Regions from separate parts of the Homo sapiens genome. Here region 2 is reported to be linked to region 1. Evidence: microRNA targets listed by miRTarBase, many of them from high-throughput screens and not tested one by one. Region 1 holds a microRNA gene; the other region holds the end of a gene's coding sequence.

What was found. The annotated mature microRNA hsa-miR-6823-3p reads UGAGCCUCUCCUUCCCUCCAG and lies in region 1 at 6,797-6,817, shown strand. An mRNA with a match to its seed (bases 2 to 7 or 8) in the 3' UTR can be bound and repressed. Matches are read on the target gene's strand: a 7mer-m8 pairs with bases 2 to 8, a 7mer-A1 pairs with bases 2 to 7 and ends in A, and an 8mer does both.
Region 2: miRTarBase lists ASIC4 as a target of hsa-miR-6823-3p. The part of its 3' UTR that is shown has no 7-base or 8-base seed match.

The regions. Positions count from the first base shown.
Region 1 is chr3:48,540,923-48,556,777 of GRCh38, reverse strand. It overlaps MIR6823 (microRNA 6823), which reads left to right and starts at 6,757; the gene lies at 6,757-6,817. It overlaps PFKFB4 (6-phosphofructo-2-kinase/fructose-2,6-biphosphatase 4), which reads left to right. Exons shown (of 14, transcript NM_004567.4): 1 at 1-97; 2 at 6,544-6,660; 3 at 6,818-6,914; 4 at 13,132-13,198. The coding sequence starts at 1. RefSeq lists enhancers at 3,695-4,356, 4,357-5,020, 5,021-5,682, 5,683-6,346.
Region 2 is chr2:219,535,610-219,548,723 of GRCh38, reverse strand. ASIC4 (acid sensing ion channel subunit family member 4) reads right to left here. Exons shown (of 10, transcript NM_018674.6): 7 at 11,567-11,658; 8 at 11,403-11,482; 9 at 10,988-11,092; 10 at 9,952-10,791. The coding sequence ends at 10,678. It overlaps CHPF (chondroitin polymerizing factor), which reads left to right and starts at 4,915. Exons shown (of 4, transcript NM_024536.6): 1 at 4,915-5,499; 2 at 6,535-7,108; 3 at 7,599-7,778; 4 at 8,082-9,770. The coding sequence starts at 5,186. The coding sequence ends at 9,341. TMEM198 (transmembrane protein 198) reads right to left here and starts at 4,696. Exons shown (of 5, transcript NM_001005209.3): 1 at 4,347-4,696; 2 at 3,831-4,035; 3 at 643-1,218. The coding sequence starts at 3,996. It also overlaps a transcript of OBSL1 not described here. RefSeq lists silencers at 4,494-4,633, 4,674-5,383, 5,394-5,483 and enhancers at 9,950-10,505, 10,506-11,060.

The sequences.
Region 1 (15,855 bases):
ATGGCGTCCCCACGGGAATTGACACAGAACCCCCTGAAGAAGATCTGGATGCCATACAGCAATGGGCGGCCCGCTCTGCACGCTTGCCAGCGCGGTGGTGAGGCGGGGTCCTCTGGGAGGAGGTGGGAGGTGCACCGGGATGGGTGGGTAGGGCGGCCTGGGCGGGGGTCTCGCATGGAGAAGGGGCGGGAGACAGATGGGGAACCGGGGACAGGTGAGGTTGCCGTGACTGGGGAGGCTGCTGGGGACAGGTGAGGCGGTCGTGACAGTGGTGGGCCAGAGACAGGTGTGGCAGAGCAGGGGGCGGGGACAGGTGTGTGGGGGCATATCGGCTTGGCGGTGGCTAGGTCTGGCCACCATCACCTCGGGGAGGGCTCTGGCCCCCTCGCTTCCCTCTCCAATCCCCATCGCCCCCAGTCTGGGGAGGACCCTGTGGGCACCCCAGGCCCTTCCCTCTCTCCTGGCCAAGGAGTGTGGGCCGGGTTGTTGGACTGGAACTGAGCTGTGTGGCCCTAGGTGAATTACTTGGCCTCTCTGAGCCCAGAACTTTCAAAGGTGGGCTAGTTTTCCAACAGGAGGAAGGGTGCCTCTTGGCCTTAAAGCTGAGCTTGGGCAGGAACTTCAGCAGAGATGTGCTCAGGATAGAGACAGAAAAGTATGCCGTGTGGGCCTGTGTCTGTGTCCCGGGACATGTAAGTATCCACCTGGGGTCATGGGTGTACAGTAAAACTGGAGAGTGAAACAGCTAGGAGAATGCTGAAATTCATGGAATTGTTAAGGGGCTCACCTCTCCTAGGGTCCCAGGTGTTTAAACCGCTTCCTTGAGTTTCTGCCTGTCCTTAAATGAGCTGGCAGTTTTTTTTTTTTTTAAGAGATGAGTCTCGCTCAGTGGCCCAAGCTGGAGCAAGTGCAGTGGCGCGATCATAGTTCACTGCAGCCACGACCTTCTGGGCTCAAGCAATCCTCCCACCTCAACCTCCCGATTAGCTGGGATTATAGGTGCGCCACCACACCCAGCTTTTTTTTTTCTTTTTTCTTTTTTTTTGTAGAGACAGGGTCTTGCTATGTTGTCTGGGCTGGTCTCCAACTCATGGCTTCAAGTGGATCCTCTGGCCTCGGCCTTCCGAAGTGTTGAGATTACAGGCGTGGGTCCTGGCCTGCAACTTTTTTATTACCAGGAAAAGAAAGATTTGTTTTAGGAGTAACTGAAACATTGTAATGAATTTGCAGCTTGTCCAGCACCTCAGAGAACATCTAGTTTAACAGACAGTGAAATGGAGATCAGGAGATTGAGTGACATGCCTGGGTCTCCCTGTGATCCTGCCTCTGCTTATGTATGATAAGCAAGGGGAGAGTTCTTTGTGCTCATCCTGCTGCAGCAGCCTGGAGCCATGGCTTTGATCATGATATGAGTCCTGGGGGAAGGGTGTGTGTATTTCTGGCCACACTGTGAGTCCTGGCAGGGGAAGGCCATGTTTCTGACCAGACCAAGTCGTGGTAACTCATGGCTTTGATTGTGATGTAGGTCCTGGTGGGGCTGTGCTGTCTATAATGCACACTCAGTCCTGAGGGCTATGGCCACCCCTCCTTTGAGACTCTTCTGGAGGCGGGGAGGCTGAGCCAGTCTGTGTTATTAGGGCTGTGTGGTCCTGACTTAGGGGGGTGGCTGCTATTACTACATAGGGGAAAGGAGTGAGGACCTGGACTTTTTTTTTTTTTTTTTTTTTGAGACGGAGTTTCACTCTTGTTGCCCAGGTTGTAGTGCAGTGGTCCTATCTCAGCTCACTGCAACCTCTACCTCCTGGGTTCAAGCAATTCTCCTGCCTCAGCCTTCCAAGTTGCTGGGATTACAGGTATGCGCCACCATGGCCGGCTAATTTTGTATTTTTAGTAGGATGGAGTTTCACCATGTTGGCCAGGCTCGTCTTGAATTCGTTATCTCTAATGATCTGCCCCCCTTGGCCTCCCAAAGTGTTGGGATTACAGGCATGAGCTGCCATGCCTAGCCAAGTCTGTGAGCCTTTAAGGAGTAGGTCCTCAATAAGCGGAGGCAGGGTATTCTGTCATCACTACCATTCTTTCTTTGCTTCTCACTACGTCTGAGTCAGGGATTGATGCATCAGCTCCAAGCCAACCCCCGTTACAGGTGAGAGGAAGCTGAGGCCCAATGGGAAGGTCTCATAGCTCCTGAGGCAGGGCTTGTGTTTCTCCAGGCTCTAAGTGTGGAACTGAAATGTGGCTCTGGCCTGAGCTGAGGGGCTCGTGCCATCACGGTGTCTCAGGGTGTTGGGGTAGGCTGGGTTCTAGGTCCGCACTTTTTCCTGGAGGAGGAGGTAGCACCTGAGAGGCCAAAGATGAGACCTGCAGGTTGTTTGGGGATTTGGGCCTCAGGGTTCACAGCAGGGAGTGGGTAAGCAGTGAATGAACATGGAACCCGCCCATGCAGCACCTCCAGCTCCCAGTGCCTGCATTTGGGCAACACTTTACCCTTTGCATAGTAGACTTGTAGGTTGAGTGACTGCAAGGACAGTCTGGACCCGGAGGGTGTGGGTGGGGATGGAAGCGGATTTGGTCCCAGGGCTTTGTGGGGAGGAAGAAGCAGGACCCACTGCTGGTCTGTGCTTTGTACTGGGTTTTCTCTGGAGTCTAGTCCCCAGCTCCTCAGGGCACTAGGGGCTGGTGGACTGAGGGATGTACTGCACCTCCTCCACTCCCACAGGCACGCCCCCGCTTGATAAAATTTAAAGCCACACCTGAGGGCTTGGGAGGCTTTTACCTTTCCCATCATTGGCCTCCGAGCTCAGACCTGGAGGAACTCTGAGGGCAGGTGGGGCAAGAGCTGACTCAAGAAGGACTGCAGAAAGGACGGTGTTTGATGGCTTTTCTCAGCTGAAAGGTGGCAAGACTCTTCCTGGGTAAGGACATGACTGGTGTGTGCACAGGGCAACAGGAGAGATGACTTTCAGTCCCCTCTGAAAAGGGCCTCCATGGCACGTTACTTTATTTTAAAGAGCTCTTCCTTCCCTAGCCTGGCCTAAGGAGGTGAGAGCAGTTGCAGTTCAGGAGTCAATTCTGGCACCCCCTCCAGGGACTTGTGGCTGCTCCTTGGGTAGAAGTAATGGAACATAGACACTGCCCATTGCCAGGCACGTCTCAGGCCCCTTGGGCCCCTTCGCTCCTAGAGCTCATGGGGCCTGCAGCGAATTTACAGGAAAGGAACCCATGAGGGAAGTTGGGCTGACATGTCTTCACATTTCCTTCCGCACATGCTCAATGTTATAAACAGTGTGTTCTTTTTTTTTTTTGGAGACAGTCTTGCTTTGTCCCCCAGGCTGGAGTGCAGTGGCACAATCTTGGCTCACTGCAACCTCTGCCTCCTGTGTTAAAGCAATTCTCCTGTCTCAGCTTCCCGAGTAGCTGGGATTACAGGTGTGCACCACCACACCCGGCTAATTTTTGTATTTTTAGTAGAGACAGGGTTTCACCATGTTGGCCAAGCTGGTCTCGAACTCCTGACCTCAGGTGATCTGCCTGCCTCGGCCTCCCAAAGTGCTGGGATTACAGGCATGTGCCATCACGCCCAGCTATAAACAGTGTATTCTACCATCCTGTTTGCTCAGTGTCAGGGTCCTGTGGGCTCAGAGCCACAGGTGCAGCCGTGCACCCAGCCCGCTTAGTCCACGTGCTCTGTTTTGAGAGCTGCAATGTGTTCCCTCCTTGTTGTGCCTCAGTTGGCAATTTCTTATGGCTGGAATTTCCCAGTGTTTTGCTATGGTAAGCAGAGCTGTTGTGATACACTTGAACTTTGGTTTTCTTTTGGGTCATTTCCTTGGGAGCTTATCTTGGGGAGCAGAGGAGATAGGTAATTTATTGCCTTGTTTTGCACCCAGGCCTGATTTGCTGCCCTGCCTGCCCACCTTGTGCTGCGCATGTGGGTGGAAGGCGGGAAGGGAAATGCCACCAAATGCCATGGGAGGAGGCTGGAGCTGTCTCTGGGAAAATAGGAGATGTGGAGAGGGGGTGCAGATCCCCAGTCCTGAGGTTTTGGGAGTCCCTGAAGGAGCAGTTGGGGGGTGGCCCCATCAGCGGGAGCAGGGTAGATGCAGGATTTCCTCCTGCTTAGCAGCTGTCGCACTGCCCTTGGTTGCTTGAGAGCCCGGCCACCTGGCCGGGAACTATGCAAACAATGCACAATGCGGGCCTCAGCTGTCCACCGGCCCTGAGGAGGCAAGGCCTTGCCTAACTTGTTTTCCTCTCACCTTAGCTAATACTGAGAGTTCTCTGCAAGTTTCTCCACTCTCACTCAGTCAGCCTGTTTCATGGGGTCTCCTCCTTCCCGCCCCTGAGGCTCACCATTTGGGTCACCTTTAAACAAGGGGAATGCACAGGAGTGATGGAGCCCCCACTGGCAAGCAAGGCCCTTTGTTTCTCTGCAGGGCCTGCCTGGGGCCAGGCCACCGCCTCCATGCCCTGAGTCCCAAGGGCAGTCGGTGCCGAGGTACACCTATGGCTTTAGCTCAGTATCCGCCAGGGTAGGACAGAGGGCACAGCTTCCCAGAAGTGCCCAGGCTCTTGGATAGCACTAGGCTTCTCTGAGGGATGACTGCCCCATTTTACAGCTGGGGACACCGAGGCTCAGAGTTCCCAATGAGTGTCAGACTCAAGATGGCAACCCAGGCCTGACTCCTGATCCCCTGCGGAAGTGCTTCTGGGGCCTCTGTGCTCTGAGGGAAACAACTTGTTGGTGGGGACAGTCTGTCTAGGCAACCAGGTGAAGGCACTTGCAGAACCAAGAAGAGGGGCAGTGACAGGTCCCCACATCTGTTCATCTGCCTGTCTGCTATGGTTTTACCTGACCCAGGTCCTAAGGATGAGGAAAAGGAAGCTTCCTGAGGCTTCTGACGTGAGACCGCGTTTGATGGCACTGGAAACTGAGCTGAGGGCTGGGCTCACGCCTGTAATCCCAGCACTTTGGGAGGACGAGGCAGGCAGATCACCTGAGGTCAGGAATTCGAGACCAGCCTGACTAACATAATGAAATCCTGTCTCTACTGAAAATACAAAAATTAGCCAGGTGTGGTGGCATGTGCTTGTAATCCCAGCTACTTGAGAGGCTGAGGCACGAGAATTGCTTGAGCCCGGGAGGCAGAGGTTGCAGTGAGCTGGGTACCAGTGTCCTCCAGCACTCCAGCCTGGGCAAGGGCGACAGAGCGAGACTCCCTCTCAAAAAAAAAAAAAAAAAAAAAAAAAAAAAAAAAGAAGGCTGGAGGTGATGGCTCACACCTGTAATCCCAGCACTTTGGGAGGCCCAGGCAGTCGGATCACCTGAGGTCAGGAGTTTTGAGACCAGCCTGACCAACATGCCGAAACCCCGTCTCTACTGAAAATACAAAAATTAGCCAGGTGTGGTGGCAGGTGTCTGTAATCCTAGATACTTGGGAGGCTGAGGCAGGAGAATCGCTTGAACCTGGGAGGCAGAGGTTGCAGTGAGCCAAGATCGCACCACTGCCCTCCAGCCTGGGCAACAGAGTGAGACTCCGTCTCAAAAAAAAAAAAAAAAAAAGAAAAGTGAGCTAGGTCCCATAAGATGAAGCTGGCAGTTCTGCTGCCTTGGTATCTGTTCTAGCCAGCTGGGAATATAGGGGGCTGTATTCAGATCCTTCCGTGCCTCTAGCCTGGCATCTTCTCTGGCTGGCACACTGACCTGTGGCACATGGATGGTGGTGGGTGGGCTATCAGAGGGACTGTCCTTGTGGGCATCAGTCTGGGTCTCTGGTCTCAACCCCTTGTGGTCCTTACCCTGAGAGACTTCTAGATGCCTCCCTCCCTGATCCTGCCCACAGTTCCTGAGCACCAGCGCTGTGCCAGGCCCCAGGGCCCTAAAGGGCTCAGATACCACAGGGCTTCTTCTGCTGTAAGTGATCAGTCTAGAGAGAAGAGTGTCATTAGTGAGGTGACCAGGATTGAGGGTGAGGGGTGTTCCCGGTGGCCATGGAGATGCCTTGGGGAAAGGACTCATTGAGGAAGTGACTTTTTAGCTGGGCTTTGTATGATGAAAAGAAGTTCACCACAGGGAGGGCATGCAGTGGGGCTATGTGTTCTGGGAGCACTGAGTGATGGATGGGGTGGGAGAGATGTAAAAAGGTTAGGGTATGGATTCCTGGATGACAGAGGCAGGGTGTTGATTACCCTGCTGGGTTTTGGTCCTGTCCTTCATGCGGTGGGGACCCCCCTAGCCATGTTTAGCCAGTGGCAAGTTCGGTTGACTTTATGCCTGGTGGTGCACATCAGGATGAAAAGGGCTGGAGAGATCCCACTGTGTCTGCCAGAGCCCAGGCGGGCCTGGGGAAGGGGGACATGCCAACGGTGGCTTGAAACCAGCATCTGGGGCCACTCCAGGAGCTGTGTGGGGATGCTAGGAAGCCAAGAAGATACGTCTGATGCCAGTCCCATGCCCTGAGGCTGAGAGACCACAGGCTGAGAGGGAGGGGTGCGCTGGGAGGGTCCCAGCCCTCATCTGACACTGTGCTGCTTGCCTTTTAGTGTGCATGACCAACTGCCCAACTCTCATTGTCATGGTGGGCCTGCCCGCCAGGGGCAAGACCTACATCTCCAAGAAGCTGACTCGATACCTGAACTGGATTGGTGTGCCCACTCGGGGTGAGGCTTGGCCCCAGCTGTCTAAGGGGAGCTTTGTGGGGCATGACGAAGAGAATAGAGAAGGCCTATTCTCTATTATTTGGCCTGGGGTTGGGTCAAGGTCAGGGTTGGTAGGGGTTGCTGTTGCTGTGAAAGCTGAGCCTCTCCTTCCCTCCAGAGTTCAATGTTGGCCAGTATCGCCGGGACGTGGTCAAGACCTACAAATCTTTTGAATTTTTTCTCCCCGACAATGAAGAGGGCCTGAAAATCAGGAAGTAAGTATATGTGTTGGGTGTGGGGGGAGAGGTTGCTGGGGGACCCAGTGTGGAGAAAGCTAACACATTACTGACCATTTACTGAGAAGCCCCTGGAGTGGAGCTGCTGGTGAATGACTGAGCTACTCCTGAGCCCTGGCCTTGCCCAGCCCTGATGGCTGTGTGACAGGGCTGTGTGACAAGGCTGGTCTCTGGATCTCTCAGGATGTGGTGGGGGTGGGAGGTGATGGGTTTGGGGATGAGAGGAGAGGGTGTGTTGTGTGGCCTCCTGGTGGCTGGGCCATTCCTGCCCTGGGGTTAAGGAACCCTTGGGAAGGACAGAGCTTCAGGGAGGTAAGAGGGGCTCAGCCCATGCAGGTCGTTGGAGCTGCTGCCTGGAGGTCACGCTCGCTCACCCCAGCGCCCCGTGGGGATGGCTGCTGCTGGGGAAGGGAACCTGAGTGAGTGCAGGCATACAGGCCTTAGGGATGGAGCTGGGGGTGGGGGGCTTCCTCCCTTGCCCCAGGATAAGCTCTCTCCTGTGTATTTGGAGCATGTTCTTGGTGTGTGATTGCTGGTGCGATTGGCTTTGCATTGACATCTCCTAGATGCTGCTGGGTGAGTCGTTCACACTTCTGCTGTTACTCTGGAGATAGAAATATGTATATGCTACCGCCCCACCCTCAACAACTTTCAGACTTGAACTGAGTCCTTTCTTCAAGGAACTGAGCACCAGCTGGTGGTCTGAGCAGCCATGCTGTGCTTTTCTCAGGAGGTGTTAGCTGTGGTCTTGAGAAGCCCCTTATCAACCTAGGGTGGCAGAGACTTGCTCTTGGCCCAGCCATCAGGATAGGGCAGTGAGCAGAGGTTGACCCAGCTCTAGTGACTTCCCCAAATCAAGCCCAGTGGCTACCAGGCTGCCACTGGGGTCCACACTAGGCTACCCGTTCCTTCTCTGGCCACCAGGGGGCAGGAACTCCCTGCTGTGGGGCTTGGACCTTCAGACTGGAGACTGCCTTTGTTCTTGCATCGGTGTGGCTGGGCCAGGCTGTGGCACCAAGAAGGGAAGGGGAGCCTGATATTCAGGTTTCTATGGCCAAATTGTGGGTAAAAATCAAGGCTGGACCCTCTGGTTATATTGAGCCAGATAAAAAGTAGAGGACTAATGTCTGAACCTACCGTGTGCTGGGTTCTTGATGCCCATTGTCACCCCCTACTTTTACAGATGAGGAAACTGAGGCTCAGACAGGCCAGGAGTCTCGCACAAAATAGCAAGTTTACATCAGCGCCCAGACTTGAATCTAAGCCCATCCACCGCTAAAAAGTGTCCATCATTCCAATATTCCTCAATAGGTAGGTCAAGGAACATCAAATGCAAATTTTATTTATTTATTTTAAAAATTATTATTATTTGTGTGTGTGTGTGATGGAGTCTCACTCTGTCGCCCAGGCTGGAATGTAGTAGTGCAATCTCAGCTGACTGCAACCTCCGCCTCCCAGGTTCAAGCAATTCTTCTGCCTCAGCCAACAACCCCAAGCTGTGGACGCTGATAGCCTACTGTCTGATCTTCCCAGCAGCTTCTGTGGTGGGCGGTGCCTCACTTTTCCAGATGCTGGGACCAAGGCCAGAAAGTGATGGGGGTGCCTTGGGTCACTCAGGGTTTGAATTTGAAGTCCGTCCTGCCTGAATCCATAGTGTTTGTGGGGAGAGTCTGCCAGCTGTTCCACTCTGGCTGTCCCCCTAAGGTAGGGATATTTGGGATTAATTCAAATGAAGAGACCTAGACTCAGAGAGGTTGGGAAGCTAGTCCAAGGTCACCCTGCAACAGAAGCTGGGGACAGGCTCATTGCTGCCTTTCTGCAGGCATACCCTCTGGCTGCCCTAGAAACCCTCTCTGCTGTATCCGAATCCTGGCTCTGGCTGGGCCACAGGGCCATCTCCTATTAATCAGCCCAAAATTTCCCAATTAGCAAAATAAAAGGACCAGAGTTTTTAAAATGGAAAACCTGGGAAGAGACAGCTGCATTTCCCAGAGGCCCAGTTACTCACACAGTGTTGAGGTCCATCTCTGACACTGGACACAGCAGAAGATCTAGAAAAGTGCGTGCAAGGCCGGGTGCAGTGATTCACGCCTGTAATCCCAGCACTTTGGGAGGCCGAGGTGGGTGGATCACTTGAGGCCAGGAGTTTGAGACCAGCCTGGCCAACATGGCAAAACCCCATCTCTACTAAAATTACAAAAATTAGCCACATGTGGTGGGGCGCCTGTCATCCCAGCTACATCAGGAGGCTGAGGCATGAGAATTGCTTGAATCTGGGAGGTGGAGGTTGCAATGAGCCAAGATTGCGTCTCTGTGCTCCAGCCTGGGTGACAGAGTAAGACTCTGTCTCAAAAACAAAGTGTATGCAAGGGCATAAGTACACATATTCTAAACAGGCACACTCATACTCCTGCACACAGTCCTATACCACACACAAGCCCCCTATGCACACACACACGTGGGCACATGCATGCATGTGCATACCTCATAGGCACACATCCGGACATGCGTATACCATATGCACAGGGTACATACACATGCACACCCCCTGTGTACACAGTCACGTTATACATAAGGGTATATGTACATGTGTGGGCACCTACACATATAAATACTTGGGCTCACTTAAGCCACACGTAATTCAAGGGCCATTACACACACGAAGGCGCACATGTTCTCACCCTGTATATACACACACACCTGAGCACGCTCATACATGGTGTGTAGGGGGTCCCCAAGACTGCCCTCAGGTTCAGTGATTTGCTAGGGTGACTCCCAGGACTTGGCATATAGCTGGACTCATGGCTAAGACTTAGTACGGCAAAATGACACAAAGCAAAATCAGAAAAAGGGGCCTGGGGTGAAGTCCAGAGGAAACCAGGAGCGAGCATCAAGATTTTCTCCTCATGGAGTCACACAGGACGCACTTAATTCCTCCTGCATTGAACATTGACAACATGTGTAAAATGTTGTCTGCCAGGGAAATTCATCAGAGACTCAACGACCAAGGTTTTTACTGGGGGCTGGTCATATAGGCACCCTGTGCCTAGCATGTACCAAAATTCCAGACTCCCAGAAGGAAAGCAGATAATCAACATAAACCATGTTGTTTGTATAAACAGTCTATGCACAGTGAGCTCCTCTTATAATTCAGGGAAAGTTTCATATCACTAGAGGGAACTGTTTACCATCAAGTTCCCCAACCCTGGCCAAGGGCCAACCTCACAAGCAGGCCTTTCGAAGGGGACCATTCTCATACCTGCTGTGTTAACTCTTCCACACACATGCAGTCACCCACTACACATGAAGGTGGGTGCACACACATATGCATACCTCAGAGTCATGTGTGTGGGCACATATACGCTTGTGTTCACCTGTATGCACATGTGGATCTGTGCACATGTACACACCAAGCATGATCGCATATGTTCTCACACAGTCACATGGCACATGAAGACATGTATACACACACACCATGTGTACACACATGGTCACCCCCACATGCATACTCTGTATATGCTTGGACACACACACACAAACTTATACACATGGGTGCATGCACACACATCCTGTGTGCACACATGTGGGCACACTCACTCATACCTGTGCCCATTTAGTCACATACCGCACACAGGGGTTGTGCACGCTCGTGTGTGTGCACCTGTGCTCATACATGGGCCCAGGGAATACTCACACAGGTACACTCACAGATTTACATGTACACACTTGGGCACAACACACACATAACCACCCACACGTGTGGATTCATGCACATATGCATCTCTTCACCCCATTTGCACTCTCTTATACACACACACACACACGCACACACACAGGCTCCCAGGCTCTTCCCTCAGCATCTCCACCGGGGCCCTGAGGTCTCTCCTGCATGGTGGTGTCATGGCCAGAGCAGCCCACAAAAGAGATCTTAGCCCAGAACGTGGGGCTCTAAGGAGAAATGTCCCTACCAATGCCAGTTACCTGGACTCTCAGAATTCAGATGTTTTTGGCATGAGGAAGAAAGCACTTTGAGGCTTTAACTGGAAGACCCATTGGGGCACAGAAATGGTTACAAGGGCTGGACATAGTAGCTCACATGTGTAATCCCAATATTTTGGGAGGCTGTGGCGGGAGGATCACTGGAAGCTAGGAGTTAAAGACCAGCCTGGGGAACATAGTGAGACCCTGTCTCTTAAAAAAAAAAAACAAAAGAAAGAAAAGAAATGTCACAAGGAGCCGTAAGAGTAGAGCTCTTTTCAGTGCCCTGGACTCAGCTCTACCACTGATTTCTTTGTGGTTCTCAGATCAGCTTCTGCCGCTGTATTTCAGGCATATCGTCCTGATGAGAGCCCTTTGACTTTGACATGCTGGGAGTTTAAACACAAAATCCAAAGATCAACAAAGCCAGGAGGGCTGGGCACTGTGGCTCAAGCTTGCAATCCCAGCACTTGGGAGGCTGAGGAGGGTGGATCACCTGAGGTCAGGAGTTCAAGACCCACATGGCCAACATGGTGAAATCCCATCTCTACTAAAAATACAAAAAATTAGCTGGGTGTGGTGGCACATGCCTGTAATCCCAGCTACTCGAGAGGCTGAGGCAGGATAATTGCTTGAACCCAGAAGGTGGAGGTTGTAGTGAGCTGAGATCATGCCACTGCACTCCAGCCTGGGCAACAAAGTGAGACTCTGTCTCAAAAAACAAAAAACACAAAGCTAGGAGATCTAGCTTTACCCTTACATAGAAAAAGGGAAGATAATAGATAAAAAGGTAATTTATCTATCTCCAGACCTCATAGGATAAATTGATGAGAATAATCCTGGCTGGGTGCAGTGGCTCGCGCCTGTAATCCCAGCACTTTGGGAGGCCAAAGTGGGCAGATCACTTGAAGTCAGGAGTTCGAGACCAGCCTGGCTAACATGGCGAAACCCCATCTCTACTGAAAATACAAAAATTAGCCAGATGTGGTGGCACGTGCCCATAATCCCTGGTACTTGGGTGGCTGAGGCACAAGAATTGCTTGAACCTGGGAGGCAGAGGTTACAGTGAGCTGAGATTGCACCACTGCACTCCAGCCTGGGCAACAGAGAGTAAGACTCTTGTCTAAAAAAAAAAACAAACCTTCTGTGTCAATCCACTTTGCAGCAATAAATGAAAAAGCTGAGAACTTAAAAAGATTGTGTAAGCCTGGGCAACATAGCAAGACCCCATCTCTAAAAGAAATTTAAAGATTAGCCAGGTGTGGTGGCATATCCCTGTAGTTTCAGCTACTCTGGAGGCTGAGGCAGGAAGATTGCTTGAGCCCAGGAGTTTGGGCTGCAGTGAGGCATGATCCCACTGCTGCACTCCAGCCTAGGTGGCAGAGCGAGACCTTATCTCAAAAAAAAAAAAAAAAAAAAAAAAGATCTGAAAACTGTATAGTCAGTGTTTGGTCATAGGTGGGGGATTCCCATTCTGGAGGGTATGGATATGATAGAAGAAGAGATGCAGAACCCTCCCTCAGAAGGGGTGGTTTGGGGAACTCTCTTTCAGGAAAGAAAGTTGAGCACTAAGCCTAACACTGCCCGAGGGCCAGCCCTAGTGTTCCTCCCATCCCCACCACCAACTCCTGACATGCACACAAGAAAACGGCTGCTTTTAAAAATGCTTATTTTGAAATATAAAAATTAGCTGGGCGTGGTGGTGCACGCCTGTAATCCCAGCTACTCAGTAGGCTGAGGCACGAAAATTGCTTGAAACTGGGTAGAAGTTGCAGTGAGCCGAGATCGCACCACTGCACTCCAGCCTGGGTGACAGAGCGAGACTCAGTCTCAAAAAAAATAAATAAATAAATAAAAGGCGGGCGGGGGGGGGCTTATTTTGATAATCAGGGAAAATATATGACAATTAGAAATCATGAATGTGGCACAATGACAGCATGGATTTGTGCACAATGAGAGGATGAGGGAAAATACAGAAACGTAGTGCTTAAAAAATGTTCCTAATAGCCAAGAGTGTATAGCCTTCCACCTCACAGGAGCAGAGTTAGCCAAACACTGAACATTATCCTAAGGAAAGAGAAGGGAAACTTTGAAAAGAGAGCAAGAGACCTCGGGGCTGTTCCTTCTCCTGTCATGTCTCCTCCTGTTGTGTGTCCCTGGCCACCCTCCTGGAGCCAGGGTCGGGTGCTGGGCTGACCCTGTGTTTTCTCTCCTGAAGGCAGTGTGCCCTGGCAGCCCTCCGTGACGTCCGGCGGTTCCTTAGTGAGGAGGGGGGACATGTGGCGGTGAGTGTGACACCCTGGTGACAGCTGGGAGTGACACATGGGAGCCCATCCACATCTGTGCCTTTGCTCGTCAGGCATCTGGAGGGGAAGGCAGGGTGTGTGTGCCCCAGCTGCTCTGGGTGCCAGCCCTTGGGAGGAAGTCTGCAACAGCTATGCAGGAGGAAGCCAGAGACTGGATATGGGCCAGGAGTTTCCCTCTGGGCATGTGGTGGCCGCATTTGACCCTGCAGGACTTCCCTCTGGATGCTTGTATTCTTGGCCACCCCAGAAGTTACAGGTATCAGGTTGCCTAAGTCTTTAGTAAATGTGATTTCTCCTGGTGTGGGGAGAATCCTGCCCAGCATTACTGGTTGTTGTAGGAACCCACTGAATCCTGGATTAAGGGGATTCCACCTGTGTGTTGGCCCTTCTAGTCAGACGGAAGAGCAGAACAGGGCTAAACTGGGGTGTCTGTGGGAAACGGCTCTACCCCAGCCTTATATAGTCAAACACAGGGGCTGTTCTTTCCCTTCCTTCTTCTTCCTGGAGTCATGCCTTCTGGAGTTCTCTGTCCCCAGCTACAATCTGTGCCTGTAGCACAGCCATTGCCCTTCTCTCTCCTGGGTTGAATGTTCTGCCTGTGGATCCCACATCATCCTCTCTTTGACTTACTGATTTGTTTCATTGAAGCACATCCTCCAGTAACTTCCTGAGAAAGGTGCTTGGGGAGGTAAATTGTGTGAGACCTTGCACATCTGAAATGTCTTTTTTTAATCCTCACATTTGATGGTTGGGTATAGAATTTCTAGGTGGAAAGTGCTTTTCCCTTAGAACTTCTACAACATCACTCTGATGTCTTATGGCTTCTAGTGTGGCTGTGGAGAAGTCTCATGTCATTCTGATTTGCTGATCTTCCTAAAAGCTTCATCTCTTAGAGGGAGCTGAGAGTTTCTCATGCCCCTTCCGCTTGGGAGGCCTTTAGGGTCTTCAAGGTGATGTGGTTTGTGGTGGGTCTTCTCTCCACCATACATGGTCCTAGGGGGCCCCTTTTCATCATAACACTCTTGTTCTCCAGGTCAGGGAAATTGTCATGTATTATTTCTTTGACAAATCACCTCTGCCCCTTTCTGGCAACTCACTCCATCCCTACTCCCATTTTCTGAGCTGCTTTTTCTAGAACTTCTGGTGGCTACATGCTAGCTTGATTCTGAGATTCTGATTTTATCTTTTTTCTCTTAATTTTCTTTCTTTCTTTTTTTTTTTTTTTGAGATGGAGTCTCGCTCTGTCACCCAGGCTGGAGTGCAGTGGCGTGATCTCGGCTCACTACAAGCTCCTCCTCCTGGGTTCACGCCACTCTCCTGCCTCAGCGTCCTGAGTAGCTGGGACTACAAGCCCCCGCCACTGTGCCCGGCTAATTTTTTGTATTTTTAGTAGAGATGGGGTTTCACCATGGTCTCGATCTCCTGACCTCGTGATCCGCCTGCCTCTGCCTCCCACAGTGCTGGGATTACAGGCGTGAGCCACCACGCCCAGCCTTTCTCTTTATTTTCTCTGTTTTTTTTGGTTGTTTGTTTTGAGAAAGACTTCTTCAACATTATCTTACAAGTATATGAGTGTTGTTGTTTTTTATTTCCTTGAGACATGGTCCTGCTCTGTTGCCCAGGCTGGAGTGTAGTGTCTCAATCATAGCTCACTGCAGCCTGTCTCCTAGGCTTAAGTGATCCTCACACCTCAGCCTCCTGAGTAGCTGGGACTACAGGCACGTGCCACCATGCTTGGCTAATTCTTGTATTTTTCACAGAGACAGGGTTTCACCTTGTTGAGCAGGCTTGTCTCAAGCTCCTGGCCTCAAGCAATTTGCCTGCCCCAGCCTCCGAAAGTGTTAGGATTACAGGCATAAGCCACTGCACCCGGCCCAAATTTCTTTTTTTGTTTGTTTGTTTGATTTAGTTTCTGTTTTTCTTGTTAAAGGTTTTGCTGGAGTGTCCAGTGAGCCCTGGCTGGATGCCCTTTTTAAAAAAGTGATGCTGGGCTGACATGGTGGCTCATGCCTGTAATCCCAGCACTTTGGGAGTCTGAGGCAGGAGGACTGCTTGAGCCCAAGAGTTTGAGACCAGCTTACATAGCGAGACTCTGTGTCTACAGAAAAATTTTTAAATTAGCCAGGTGTGGGCCAGGTGCGGTGGCTCACACCTGTAATCCCAGCACTTTGGGAGGCTGAGGCGGGTGGATCACGAGGTCAGGAGATCAAGACCATCCTGGCTAATATAGTGAAACTCCATCTCTACTAAAAAAATACAAAAAATTAGCTGGGCGTTGTGGCAGGCGCTTGTAGTCCCAGCTACTCGGGAGGCTGAGGCAGGGGAATGGCCTGAACCCAGGAGGCAGATGGGAGACTGAGGCAGGAGAATGGCGTGAACCTGGGAGACAGAGCTTGCAGCGAGCTGAGATCGCGCCACTGCACTCCAGCCTGGGTGACAGAGCAAGACTCCGTCTCAAAAAAAAAAAAAAAATTAGCCAGATGTGGTTGGGCACAGTGGCTCACCCCTGTAATCCCAGCACTTTGGGAGGCCAAGGCTGGCAGATCATGAGGTCAGGAGTTCGAGACCAGCCTGCCCAACATGGTGAAACCTCGTCTCTACTAAAAATACAAAAATTAGCCAGGCGTGGTGGCACA
Region 2 (13,114 bases), not on the chromosome of region 1:
TTTAAAGTCTTATTGCCCTTCTAATAAAATGTGGAGTGCTTCTTATGACCCAGAGGGTCCACGCAATCACTCTGGCTCCCACACCTCACCTCCCATACTCCTGCCCCACTTCCTCAAGCAAGCTGAGCTCATTCCTTCTCAGGGCCCTCGCCCTTGCTGTTCCCTCTTCTCTAGCTCTTTGCATGGCTGGCCCCTTAGCCTTCAAGTGCCTGCTTACATATCACCTCCTTCAAGCAGCCTTCCCTGACCACCCTAACTCTAATAGCTTCCATAGGTCATTCTTTCACATTATCCTGCACAATGTCTCTGTCATATCACTCTACACAACTGGAATCATGTTTGTTTGCATCTCTGTTATCTGTCTCCTGCCTGCCTTGAATCCATAAGGACAGGAACCTTGTCTGTGTTATCTCTGCTGTATCCCTGGTGCCTGGAATGGGGTTGGTGCGGAGCCAGCACTCCATATGTTGTTGTGGAATGAATGATGGCACCTGGGTGCTATCCTCCCAGACCCTGAGCAAGTCAGCTCTCTACCGCCATCGAGGCCTTCTGCTGCTGTCCCCCACTCCCCAGTCACTTGGCCCCCAACCCATCCCTGGCCACCCACTCCTCTCATGTCCACCTTGGCCTGTGCCCCCTTACCTTCCGTGTGGGAGTCCCCCTCAGCTGTCACCCTCCACTGCACCAGAACGCCCATCAGGCTGAGCAGGGGCCAGAGTGCCAGCAGGGCCCAGCTTCGCCAGCAGAGTGGGGGCACAGGAGCAGCCCGGAGTCGCTCCACCACGTAGCGCCCCAGCAGTAGCAGCTCGGCGAAGTAGTCAGCGGCAGTGGCGATCAGCGCAGCACCAGTCACGGCGGTGGCCAGGGTGGTGAGTGGGCGGGGCCAGCGCAGAGTGAGCAGGGCACAGAGCAGGCCGCCCCCCAGCAACAGCCCCAGTGGACCCCACACGGAGCCTGGCTGGTAGTAGGGTGCGGAGCCCAGCAGGGCAGCAGCTGCGAGCAGCAGGCCGAGCAGCAGCCCCACCAGGAAGAGGCCCACGCTGCGCACTAGCATGGCCACCAGCCCGCAGAGCAGCCCGATGCCCAGAGCGATGCCCGCGCTCGCCCCAGCACTCAGCTGTGTCTCTAGCACCCGCTCTCGGTAGCAGAGGAGGAAGATGACCACCGAGCCAAACAGCAACCCAGTGAGAAAGAGCACTGCCTTGAAGCAGCGGTAACCTGGAGGGGAACAGGGGCTAGTGAGGGGCCAAGATGAGGGCACCAGGCTGGAGGGAGCAGGTCCAAGGGGTCAAGGACATGGGATCCCAGGGGAACCAGAGACAAAGACACTAAGATCAGAGAATTGAGGGTCACTGGAGTCATGACGGCATCAGTGATGGGGCCATTGAGGTCAGGGGAGGTTAGAGAGATATGGCTGTTGGTGGTCAATGGGAAGGCAAACATAACCATTGAGATCATGAGGGTTGATGTATTTGAGGATCACAGGAGTTAGGATAAATCTTTTGAGTCAAGAGTGAATTCGTGCATTGGTGTCTTTGGGATCATAGGAGTCAGAGAGAGAAGTCACTGGGGTCCCAAGGGGATCAGAAAAAGAGTCATTGGGGTCTTTGAGAAGGGATTGCTCACAGAGATGAGGTATTTGGAAATCATAATAAACTCGAGGGCCGGGCGTGGTGGCAGCACTATGGGAGGCCAAGGCGGGTGAATCATGAGGTCAGGAGTTTGAGACCAGCCTGACCAACGCGGTGAAACCCCGTCTCTACTAAAAATACGAAAAATTAGCCGGGCATGGTGGCACGCACCTGTAATCCCAGCTACTCAGGAGGCTGAGGCAGGAGAATCGCTTGAACCCAGGAGGCAGAGGTTGCAGTGCACCAAGATCGCACCATTGCATTCCAGCCTGGGTGACAGAGCGAGACTCTTGTCTCAAAAAAAAAAAAAAAAAGAAACTTGAGAGGTGAGGGTCACACAGGTTCAGAAAGATGAGTCTTTGGGGGTCACAGGGCTTCAGAGATAATGGCACCACTGAAAGGTTACAAAGAGGACAGAGTAGCAGCATTACTGGGGAGTTGTCCCAGAAAATGAGGTATTTGTAGGTTAGGGAGATTGACAGAAATAGAATCATCGAGAGTATAAAACGATTTCCAAGAGAGAGGAACACTGAGACCAAAACAAGGAATTACTGGGATCACAGTATGGGGAGGGGTGATCAGATAATGAGGTTATGGGAATTAGAGAGGAGTAACCAGGGATCAAGACTAGGAGTAATAGAGGGGGTCAGAGGGATGGAAGGTAATGACATAACTGGAGGTGAGAGGAGGTGGAGGTCACTAAGGCTTACATGAGGTCACACAGAATCAAAGAGAAGGAAACAGTGTTTGTGGAGTTTCAGAAATAAGGAGGTTATAGGGCCATTAGGCCCATTAGAGATACTTGAAAGGGTGAGGGAAGTGGAGATTCTGAATAGTTGGAAAGATGGAAATCAGAGATGGGGGTCAAGGAGTCAGAGAGAGCCAAAAAGAAAGATAACAGAGGAGAGTCACTTCCAGGAGTGGGGGGAAGTATGAGAGTCCAGGAGGCTCGTGATCAGAGAGAGGAGTAGGGCGTGGACAAGGGCTCAGAGTCCATGAGCCTGGGCGTAGTGACATCCAAGAGGGGTAGGATGTCAGGAAGCCCAGGAGAGGGAATATGAGGCTGCATTGAGCAACATGCAGAGGGAGTGGGTACAGATATGGAGGGGGTGAGGTGATACAGAATCCTTGGAGGCCCAGAACGTGTCCTGAACCCTTGCGGGGGGCACTTCCTCCTGCCTACTCTTCAGTTGTTCAGCCCAGAGTTTGGGGGAGGAATGGGAGGGACCATCTGGCTCCCAACCCTGTCTACCCACCCATTGCAGGGGGAGGCTGCAGAACACAAGTCTTGCACTACCTCTGCTCAACCTGGAACCCCAGCCCCCAAGACTCATTTGCCCCCACTGGTCCCACTCACCTACAATTCTCCTGGAGGCTTTCTTTGGGCCCCCAGCCCATAGAGCTCACTCTCCTCTCTGAAGTTCTGTAACTCTTGCTGCAAAGCCACTGGTCACTTACTCCCATTATACTGGGCCACTAGCCCATCTGGCACCTTTATGCATATTAGAAAAAGGTGTGCCTTTCTCTAGGCAAAGCAGCTTTGTGCCAAGGCCCAGAGTTTGTCAGAGCATGAGCTGGACTTTAGCCCCCACTTGCCCACTCAGCTGAGCTCCCTTATTTAGTACCCGTCCTGTACAAGTATTCACAGCAGCTCTGATTACCGGAGCCTGCCTTGTAGGCTGGATGGATGTGTGTGACCACCATCCAGCCCACTCTAATATGTATCCCAGGTGTAAATGCTCCAGGGAGTCTCCTCCCTGTCAGACAATATGCCCTGTGGTAAGGGACCATGTGTAATAACCCTGCTAAGTGTTTTCAGTGGCTACCTAGCACAGTTAGCCAAACACATCCTCACAATAGCTACAATTTATTGAATGCTTACTAATTCTTACAACACTACATGAGACAAATATTGTGATCATTGTTCAGATGAGAAAACTGAGGCTCAGACAGATTAATGTGCCCAAGACATCACAATTAGTAACTGCAAAGCTAAGTAAATTCACACTCAGGTGTGCCTAATCCAAAAACCTGTTTTTCCTATAATCTAGAGTCTAGACAATCTATAAATGTGTGGGATGAAAGAAAAGGAAGAATTATTCATGATGGTAGAGGGATTCAGAGAAGACTTGGGGGCCCAGAAAAAGAACTCGGGGAAACACTGGGGAGCCCAGGTGAGGGATGAGATGGGGATCTCACCGAAGAAGCAGTAGACGACTCCAAACAAACAGCACATGATGCAGACGAGGGCCGGCAGTGCCTGGTACCTGCGCTCCAGGGGCTGTTCACAAGGTGCACCCCAGAAGGCATCATCTGGCTCAGGGGGCAGCAGCTGGAACCGCAGTGTTGCCACAGTCCCCGGCATAGTGCTGGGAATAGAAGGGAGTCACCCTCCCAAGTTAACCTGACAGAGGGAAAGTTGGGGTCACGGAGGAGTCCTGGGTCCCCACCAGGATGGGGGTGGGAGAGGGATTGGGAGAACTCAGCAAGGACAGTGGACAAAGGAATAGTATCCACATTTGTGCAGCTCCGGAAGCATCTCTGGAGTGGGGAGCAAAGACAAAGGGAAACAAAAGTGCCTGGCTAGTGGAGGCTGGGATGAAGTTAAAAGAGGGACGGGAGTCGGGGGGATGAAGGGAGCGTGCTGCCAGTGAGAAGGAGGCAGCCAAGAGATTCATCTGTGGGCGGCTCAATATGGGATTGTCCAAGATTTACCTGGGCTGGAGGCGACCTGAGCTTCTGAGTGAAAGAGGCTGTGCAGAGGCCCGAGGGGCCGGGGTTGCGGGGCGCCAGAGGCTCCAACTGACTGGGGTCCAGGGAAAGTCCGTCGTGCGAGGAAGGGGGCTGCTGGGCCGGAGAGAATGGTGTCGGCGCGGTGGCGGCGCCGCTCCACGTCCAACACCGGCTGGCACTCCAGTCCCGCGGCGTCCGGGAACTCGGGCTGGGCCTGAGGAAGGGGAAGGCGCAGGAGCCGGGGCTCGGGCCGCCCCAGAACCGCGGCCCCATGCCCTGAGCCCGCCCGCGGCCTTTGGTGCTGATGGACAGCTCCGGCCTCTGCTCCTGACGTCACTCAGGGCGCACCATCCAGGCAGGGGCGGGCTGCTTCTGACGTCACATGGGACGCACCAACCACGCCGCGGGAGGCAGGGGACTCCGCCCCCGGCGTCTCCCTCTCCCGCACTGAGGAGGGGGCACTTCCGGGGGTCCTTCCCCTTTAACCTCCCCCTTCTCCTCCCTCTCCGGTAGCGAGAGCCCGAGACCCCACCCCGGGGGCGGGGCCCTTGCAGTGACACGTCGGACAGCTGCGGCCGCGGCTGAGGCTCCAGTGCCGAGCGCAAGAACCCTGCGCAGCCCAGAGCAGCTGCTGGAGGGGAATCGAGGCGCGGCTCCGGGGATTCGGCTCGGGCCGCTGGCTCTGCTCTGCGGGGAGGGAGCGGGCCCGCCCGCGGGGCCCGAGCCCTCCGGATCCGCCCCCTCCCCGGTCCCGCCCCCTCGGAGACTCCTCTGGCTGCTCTGGGGGTTCGCCGGGGCCGGGGACCCGCGGTCCGGGCGCCATGCGGGCATCGCTGCTGCTGTCGGTGCTGCGGCCCGCAGGGCCCGTGGCCGTGGGCATCTCCCTGGGCTTCACCCTGAGCCTGCTCAGCGTCACCTGGGTGGAGGAGCCGTGCGGCCCAGGCCCGCCCCAACCTGGAGACTCTGAGCTGCCGCCGCGCGGCAACACCAACGCGGCGCGCCGGCCCAACTCGGTGCAGCCCGGAGCGGAGCGCGAGAAGCCCGGGGCCGGCGAAGGCGCCGGGGAGAATTGGGAGCCGCGCGTCTTGCCCTACCACCCTGCACAGCCCGGCCAGGCCGCCAAAAAGGCCGTCAGGTAGTGATCGGCTGCGCCCGCTCTACCCCCTGGGCAGCGGCCGGGAAGCGCGCGGGGAGGTCGCCCGGGCCCGGGTCAGGCTCCGGAAGGAAGGGGCTGGCGAGCCAGGAAGTCTTTGGGCCCCGATAACTTCCGATGGCCCTGCCTTCCCGAGAGCCGTGGGGCCAGTCCGAGACTTTCTCTGGGCCCTATCCCGGCCTGGGCTGAACTTACTGGACTGTGTCCTAAACCGGCTCGACCCGATGGCGCCCCAGAGATCCTACTAGCTCCCTGGCTGGGCTGCTGGTGTTAGAGAAATGACTTATATATAGGGTGAGTGTATAGAGACAGGGGAAGAGAAAGGAGAGAACTAGGATTTACCTGGATCTCTTGTTCCTGAGTGGGTTACAAGGGCCACCTCAGGGTGAGATGGGGGAGGGAGGAATGTACCTATCTCATTAATGTCTCTGCTGATGAGTTGAAATAACTTCTAAGTAACATTGGGTTCAAATGCTGGTTCTGCAATTTACCTTCTGCCTTACCAAAAGGTAAGTTCCTAGAGCCCCTGAGTGCAGTTTGCCCCTCCCCGCAAAAACACTCAGTACACCCCTATGCCAAACGTTCCTTTATGTCATTTATGTGAGGCATTTGTGGCATAATGGCATATTTATATAGAAATGAGTAGATACATGGTGTGTCCAGCGTTTGGCTGGGTGCTTTAAACAGATATAATCAGTCCCATTTTACAGATGGCTCAGGTTAAATAACATGCTCAAGGACATAACTACTAAGTAGCGAACCCCGGAGTCAGACCCACAATATCTCTCTCCTATCTGGGTGGGTATTGCCATCTCCCAAATGCAAAGCACTACCTGTTTAAGACCATTTCGTTTAAATCCTCATGACCCCTGGGAGAGAGGGTTTATTTTTAACCTATTCATAGGTGAGAGAACAGATACAGAGAAGACGTGACCTGCCAGGGTCTGTGCTGACCACCTCCCCCCCACCCCCCGCCCCGTTGTCCTTTTGATAAGCTTGTGCCATCTCCTCCCCTAGGACCCGCTACATCAGCACGGAGCTGGGCATCAGGCAGAGGCTGCTGGTGGCGGTGCTGACCTCTCAGACCACGCTGCCCACGCTGGGCGTGGCCGTGAACCGCACGCTGGGGCACCGGCTGGAGCGTGTGGTGTTCCTGACGGGCGCACGGGGCCGCCGGGCCCCACCTGGCATGGCAGTGGTGACGCTAGGCGAGGAGCGACCCATTGGACACCTGCACCTGGCGCTGCGCCACCTGCTGGAGCAGCACGGCGACGACTTTGACTGGTTCTTCCTGGTGCCTGACACCACCTACACCGAGGCGCACGGCCTGGCACGCCTAACTGGCCACCTCAGCCTGGCCTCCGCCGCCCACCTGTACCTGGGCCGGCCCCAGGACTTCATCGGCGGAGAGCCCACCCCCGGCCGCTACTGCCACGGAGGCTTTGGGGTGCTGCTGTCGCGCATGCTGCTGCAACAACTGCGCCCCCACCTGGAAGGCTGCCGCAACGACATCGTCAGTGCGCGCCCTGACGAGTGGCTGGGTCGCTGCATTCTCGATGCCACCGGGGTGGGCTGCACTGGTGACCACGAGGTGGGATGATAAGCTATCCCACTGATACCTCCTTGTCATGTTCAAATCCCTCTGAGAGGCAAAGGGATGTTGGAGATACAGGTCTGCTTTTCCATGCCAATTCGGACATTTATTTTCTATCTCTGTGACCCCCAGTAAATTACTAAATATCCTGGGCTTCAGTATCTTCCTTTGTGCCAATGGAAATAATTATTGCTCGGGGTTGTTACAAGGATTAGAAAAAATCAGGGAGCCTTGTACATAATAGGCATTTGATGTTAGTTATTATTTTAGCCCTTGGACAGCTCTGAGACAGGACGCATGCCCATTTCGCAGATGAGCTAGCGGAGGCATGCTGAAGGTCACACAGACTCACAACTGGTCAAGGTAGACTTAAACCCTCAGACTGCAAGTCCACAACAGGTCATAGGCTGAGGAGATGAGACACTTACTATGAGACAACGGAAGACAATGCCAGCTCATCACAGATCCCTTCCCTTCCTCTCCCCAGGGGGTGCACTATAGCCATCTGGAGCTGAGCCCTGGGGAGCCAGTGCAGGAGGGGGACCCTCATTTCCGAAGTGCCCTGACAGCCCACCCTGTGCGTGACCCTGTGCACATGTACCAGCTGCACAAAGCTTTCGCCCGAGCTGAACTGGAACGCACGTACCAGGAGATCCAGGAGTTACAGGTATGGTCTAGGTCTGGGGGTGGCAGAGTGACGGGGACAGGATCTGAGAAGTCACAGAGAGCCCAGAGAAATGACAAGTTAGCACTAGAATCACAGAACAAAACTACTTCCCAGCCCCTGCCTGTTTCTACATTCTCTGATGAGCCTCTTGGCTGTCTATGCTGGGGAAATGATAGGTATGGGCAGAGGTTGGCAGGGGATGAGGGGCCCATCCTGAGTGGCACCTACTGCCTACCCAGTCCCCCAGCTGTGTGCTGCTCCCTGTAATCTGTCCCTTGCTGATGGCCTGTTTCTCTGATCCAGTGGGAGATCCAGAATACCAGCCATCTGGCCGTTGATGGGGACCAGGCAGCTGCTTGGCCCGTGGGTATTCCAGCACCATCCCGCCCGGCCTCCCGCTTTGAGGTGCTGCGCTGGGACTACTTCACGGAGCAGCACGCTTTCTCCTGCGCCGATGGCTCACCCCGCTGCCCACTGCGTGGGGCTGACCGGGCTGATGTGGCCGATGTTCTGGGGACAGCTCTAGAGGAGCTGAACCGCCGCTACCACCCGGCCTTGCGGCTCCAGAAGCAGCAGCTGGTGAATGGCTACCGACGCTTTGATCCGGCCCGGGGTATGGAATACACGCTGGACTTGCAGCTGGAGGCACTGACCCCCCAGGGAGGCCGCCGGCCCCTCACTCGCCGAGTGCAGCTGCTCCGGCCGCTGAGCCGCGTGGAGATCTTGCCTGTGCCCTATGTCACTGAGGCCTCACGTCTCACTGTGCTGCTGCCTCTAGCTGCGGCTGAGCGTGACCTGGCCCCTGGCTTCTTGGAGGCCTTTGCCACTGCAGCACTGGAGCCTGGTGATGCTGCGGCAGCCCTGACCCTGCTGCTACTGTATGAGCCGCGCCAGGCCCAGCGCGTGGCCCATGCAGATGTCTTCGCACCTGTCAAGGCCCACGTGGCAGAGCTGGAGCGGCGTTTCCCCGGTGCCCGGGTGCCATGGCTCAGTGTGCAGACAGCCGCACCCTCACCACTGCGCCTCATGGATCTACTCTCCAAGAAGCACCCGCTGGACACACTGTTCCTGCTGGCCGGGCCAGACACGGTGCTCACGCCTGACTTCCTGAACCGCTGCCGCATGCATGCCATCTCCGGCTGGCAGGCCTTCTTTCCCATGCATTTCCAAGCCTTCCACCCAGCTGTGGCCCCACCACAAGGGCCTGGGCCCCCAGAGCTGGGCCGTGACACTGGCCGCTTTGATCGCCAGGCAGCCAGCGAGGCCTGCTTCTACAACTCCGACTATGTGGCAGCCCGTGGGCGCCTGGCGGCAGCCTCAGAACAAGAAGAGGAGCTGCTGGAGAGCCTGGATGTGTACGAGCTGTTCCTCCACTTCTCCAGTCTGCATGTGCTGCGGGCGGTGGAGCCGGCGCTGCTGCAGCGCTACCGGGCCCAGACGTGCAGCGCGAGGCTCAGTGAGGACCTGTACCACCGCTGCCTCCAGAGCGTGCTTGAGGGCCTCGGCTCCCGAACCCAGCTGGCCATGCTACTCTTTGAACAGGAGCAGGGCAACAGCACCTGACCCCACCCTGTCCCCGTGGGCCGTGGCATGGCCACACCCCACCCCACTTCTCCCCCAAAACCAGAGCCACCTGCCAGCCTCGCTGGGCAGGGCTGGCCGTAGCCAGACCCCAAGCTGGCCCACTGGTCCCCTCTCTGGCTCTGTGGGTCCCTGGGCTCTGGACAAGCACTGGGGGACGTGCCCCCAGAGCCACCCACTTCTCATCCCAAACCCAGTTTCCCTGCCCCCTGACGCTGCTGATTCGGGCTGTGGCCTCCACGTATTTATGCAGTACAGTCTGCCTGACGCCAGCCCTGCCTCTGGGCCCTGGGGGCTGGGCTGTAGAAGAGTTGTTGGGGAAGGAGGGAGCTGAGGAGGGGGCATCTCCCAACTTCTCCCTTTTGGACCCTGCCGAAGCTCCCTGCCTTTAATAAACTGGCCAAGTGTGGACTTGTGATTCAGAGGTTTTGAAAAGGTAGGCAGGCGTGGGGGAGGGAGGACTGGCTGAGCACCACAGGCTCCCCTGCCCCTGCTGGGGCCTGCCTTTCCTTTCACCCGGGACCAAGTCATGCATGTGCCCAGCCTCACCCCGGCCCCCAGTGCGTGCTTGGTCACACATACACACAGAGAATTCTTTATGCCTCTTTATTCCCAATCTCGTCAGCACTTTATAAAATCAGACTGGAGGGAGAGAGGACTGAGAAGGCTCCCTTCCCACCCTCCAAGCTCAGCCGAAGTCTGGAAGGTCTCCTGCCCCCTCCCTATAGAAGGGACTCTAGGGGTGGGGCTGGTGCAGGGGGAACTGGGAGCTGGGCCAGGCCTGCTGGGCCATCCTCTCCCCCTGCCAAGAGGGGAGCTGGGCCTGGAGAGGGGCAGGAAGTAGGACCAGCCCAGCACTCCTGAGTCCTGGGGCTCTCCCTATCCTGCTGACATTGGGGCTGGGACCCTGGCTGTCCCTAAATCACCCACCCCTGTAGCCCTACCCACCTTCTACATCTGTATCCCCTCCCCCCACCCGGCTTTCCCTAAATATTTACAAATGTACAGAGGGCTCCCCCTCCCCGGCTGGGATGGGCTCTATCCTCCCCCTCCCTCTCCTTCCTTCCCTTCCTCTCCGTGAGGGCCCATGGCCTGGTCTCCAGCCCTCCCGGGGCACCAGCCTGGGGATAAGGGGTGTGGACAAGAAGGACCTTTGTGCAAAGCAGCTGACATCAGGGCAGGGGAGGATGAGAGCAGGAACTGAGTCCTGGCCCTCCCAGTGAGCACCGCCCCCAGGCCTCTCCCAGGAGCAGGAGAATGTGCTGGGGATCCCAGGAGGGGTCCCAGACTCCTGGGTCCTTTCAGTCACAGCACCGTCCTAGCAAGCAAAATCTTCAAAGAGACCTCCTGGGGGACCGTGGGGGTGGTGGTGATTGGGGAGCAGACTGCTGACCCCCCCACCCTCCACTCGGCCCCGGCTCGGGCAGGGACTCTGCAGGAGAAAGAAAAGAGAGAGTGGGACCGGGAGAGCTCAAGTGGTGCCCCCAGGGCTCACACCGCCAGCCTTTCCTTGTCACCTCGGGCAGAGGCTCCAGGGCCCCCTCCACAGGCTGGTTCAGAAACAATGGATGTATTCAGTCCTGGGGAGGTGTGGCTGCATGCTGCAGGCATTTAGAGCTTGTCCTCACCTGTTCCTTCAGCTCCTGAAGCCCCAAAGTGGAGATGCCCCCAGTGGAGGTCCGCAGGGGGGTCTTGGGACGCCTCCATACCCGCTTCAGTCGATCCCAGGACACCTTGGGGTTCAGGGTCGGGGACAGCAGTGGGCTCAGGAAATTTGGTTGAGGAGAAGCGTGAGCCTTACCATGCCCAGCTGCCCACAGGACTTACTGCCACAGCAAACTCCCAGTAGGACACCCTCCTCCTCCTCACCCATCCCCTTCTCCTGACTCTGAGCCCTCAGGCCTGCCAGCCAGTCAGGGGACCCTGGCAGAGAACCCTGAACCTGACTTTCCAGCCAGGCCAGCTCCACCAGGCACCCCGCACTGCCCCCTTCTGCTTTGCCCACGGCCCCCACTCCCACCCTGCCTTCTCCAGGGCCCTTGCCTCATAGATGTAGTCGAGGATCTCCAGCAACGTGAGGATGCTGGCCCCAATGAACAGGCCCATCTGTCCCCCGAGGTCTCCTGGGAAGCAGGAGAGCAGTGTCAGAGGGAGCGGCCGGGCCGATCCACCCCCACACAAGCTGGGGGCAGGGACACCAGTCTCACCCAGCAGGGCTGACAGGCCATAGGCTGCTCGCTGCTCCATGGCTTCAGAGGTCAGGGCCTCAAAGAAGACATCTAGGACCAGGAAGTTCTCCCTGTGGAGACAGGAAGCAGGGTATCCGTGTGGGCCTCTCTTCCTGAGAAGGCTGGCAGGGGCATCCTGGATCCAGCAGATCCTGATCAGAGATCACTACATGGGGAAGTCAGTGACTACCCCCCGGACTCCCCAAGGCTGTGAGGGGAGGCAGTCCCGGATGTGTGTTAGCTTCATCTTTTGAGGGGTAGCAAAGGGCCTGGGAGAGCAAAACACAACTCCTGGACCTGAAGGAAACACTCCTCCCTCCTCTAAAGCAGCCAGTGGTGTTGCCTTTGCCTCCTCCTTACGCCTCTGCGGACCCTTCAGTGACCCCTGTTGCCCGTCAGTCCACTCCACAATGCCCCTTCTCGGTGTCCTGGGCAGCCGGTGGCCTGTCCCCGGCACCTTCCTCCCCAGCCGCCGTCTTTTCTGCTTCCTCCACACAGCTGCCTATGGCTCAGGCTCCCCGCCACACCACCCCACCGCCCCACGTCCTGTCACTGGACGCCTCCCCATTGCCTCCTCTCTCAGACCCCAAACCCAGGGCCCTCAGAGGCCGGCTCACGCCTCCCCAGCTTCACTCCCCGACTGGGGCCTGAGAATCAGTCCTACATGATCAAACGTGGGCTCATTGACAAATTGTGGCATGAGTTTTGTGTCATAATCATCTGTCCCCACAGAACCCAGCACTGAGCCTGGCACCCAGACCACGCTCCACAAGTGTAGACTGGCTGGAGGGGACCAGACCCAAGCCTCAGGGCGGTCCCTCCTGCCTCCCCCTGCAGGGTACTGTGTTCCTCTCCTGTCTCATCCTGTCCCTCTCCCTCCGTGCAGGGAAGAAAGATGCATAAGCAAAGCACTCTGAAATGTGGCATATGTGTAATGACAGAGATCTGTACGGGTGCTGGGAACTCAGATGAAAGGTGTTTGGACCTGGAAGCACTTCCCTGGAGGTGGAGACACTGAACGTGACTTGAGCAATGAGTGGGGCTACTTAGAAGAGAAGGGCTGTGGCCAGGCAAGGTGGCTCACACCTGTAATCCCAGCACTTTGGGAGACCAAGGACGGCAGATCACTTGAGGTCAGGAGTTTAAGACCAGCCTGGCCAACATGGTGAAACCCCATCTCTACTAAAAAGACAAAAATTAGCTGGGTATGGCTGTGGGTGCCTATAATCCCAGCTATTTGGGAGGCTGAGGGAGAAGAATCGCTTGAACCTGGGAGGTCGAGGTTGCAGTGAGCCAAGATTGTGCCACTGCACTCCAGCCTGGGCGACAGAGCAAGACTCTGTCTCAAAAAAAAAAAAAAAAAAGAAGGAGAAGAATAGAGCTATGAAGGGCATTCCCGGTAGAAGACTCATCATAGAGATGCGGCCCACTCCCTGCCTCCACCATGCCCAGCGCCTGTTGAGGGCAGCCTCCACCACACACACACACGCACACAGACCCACACAGACATAGACACATTCTCTCACA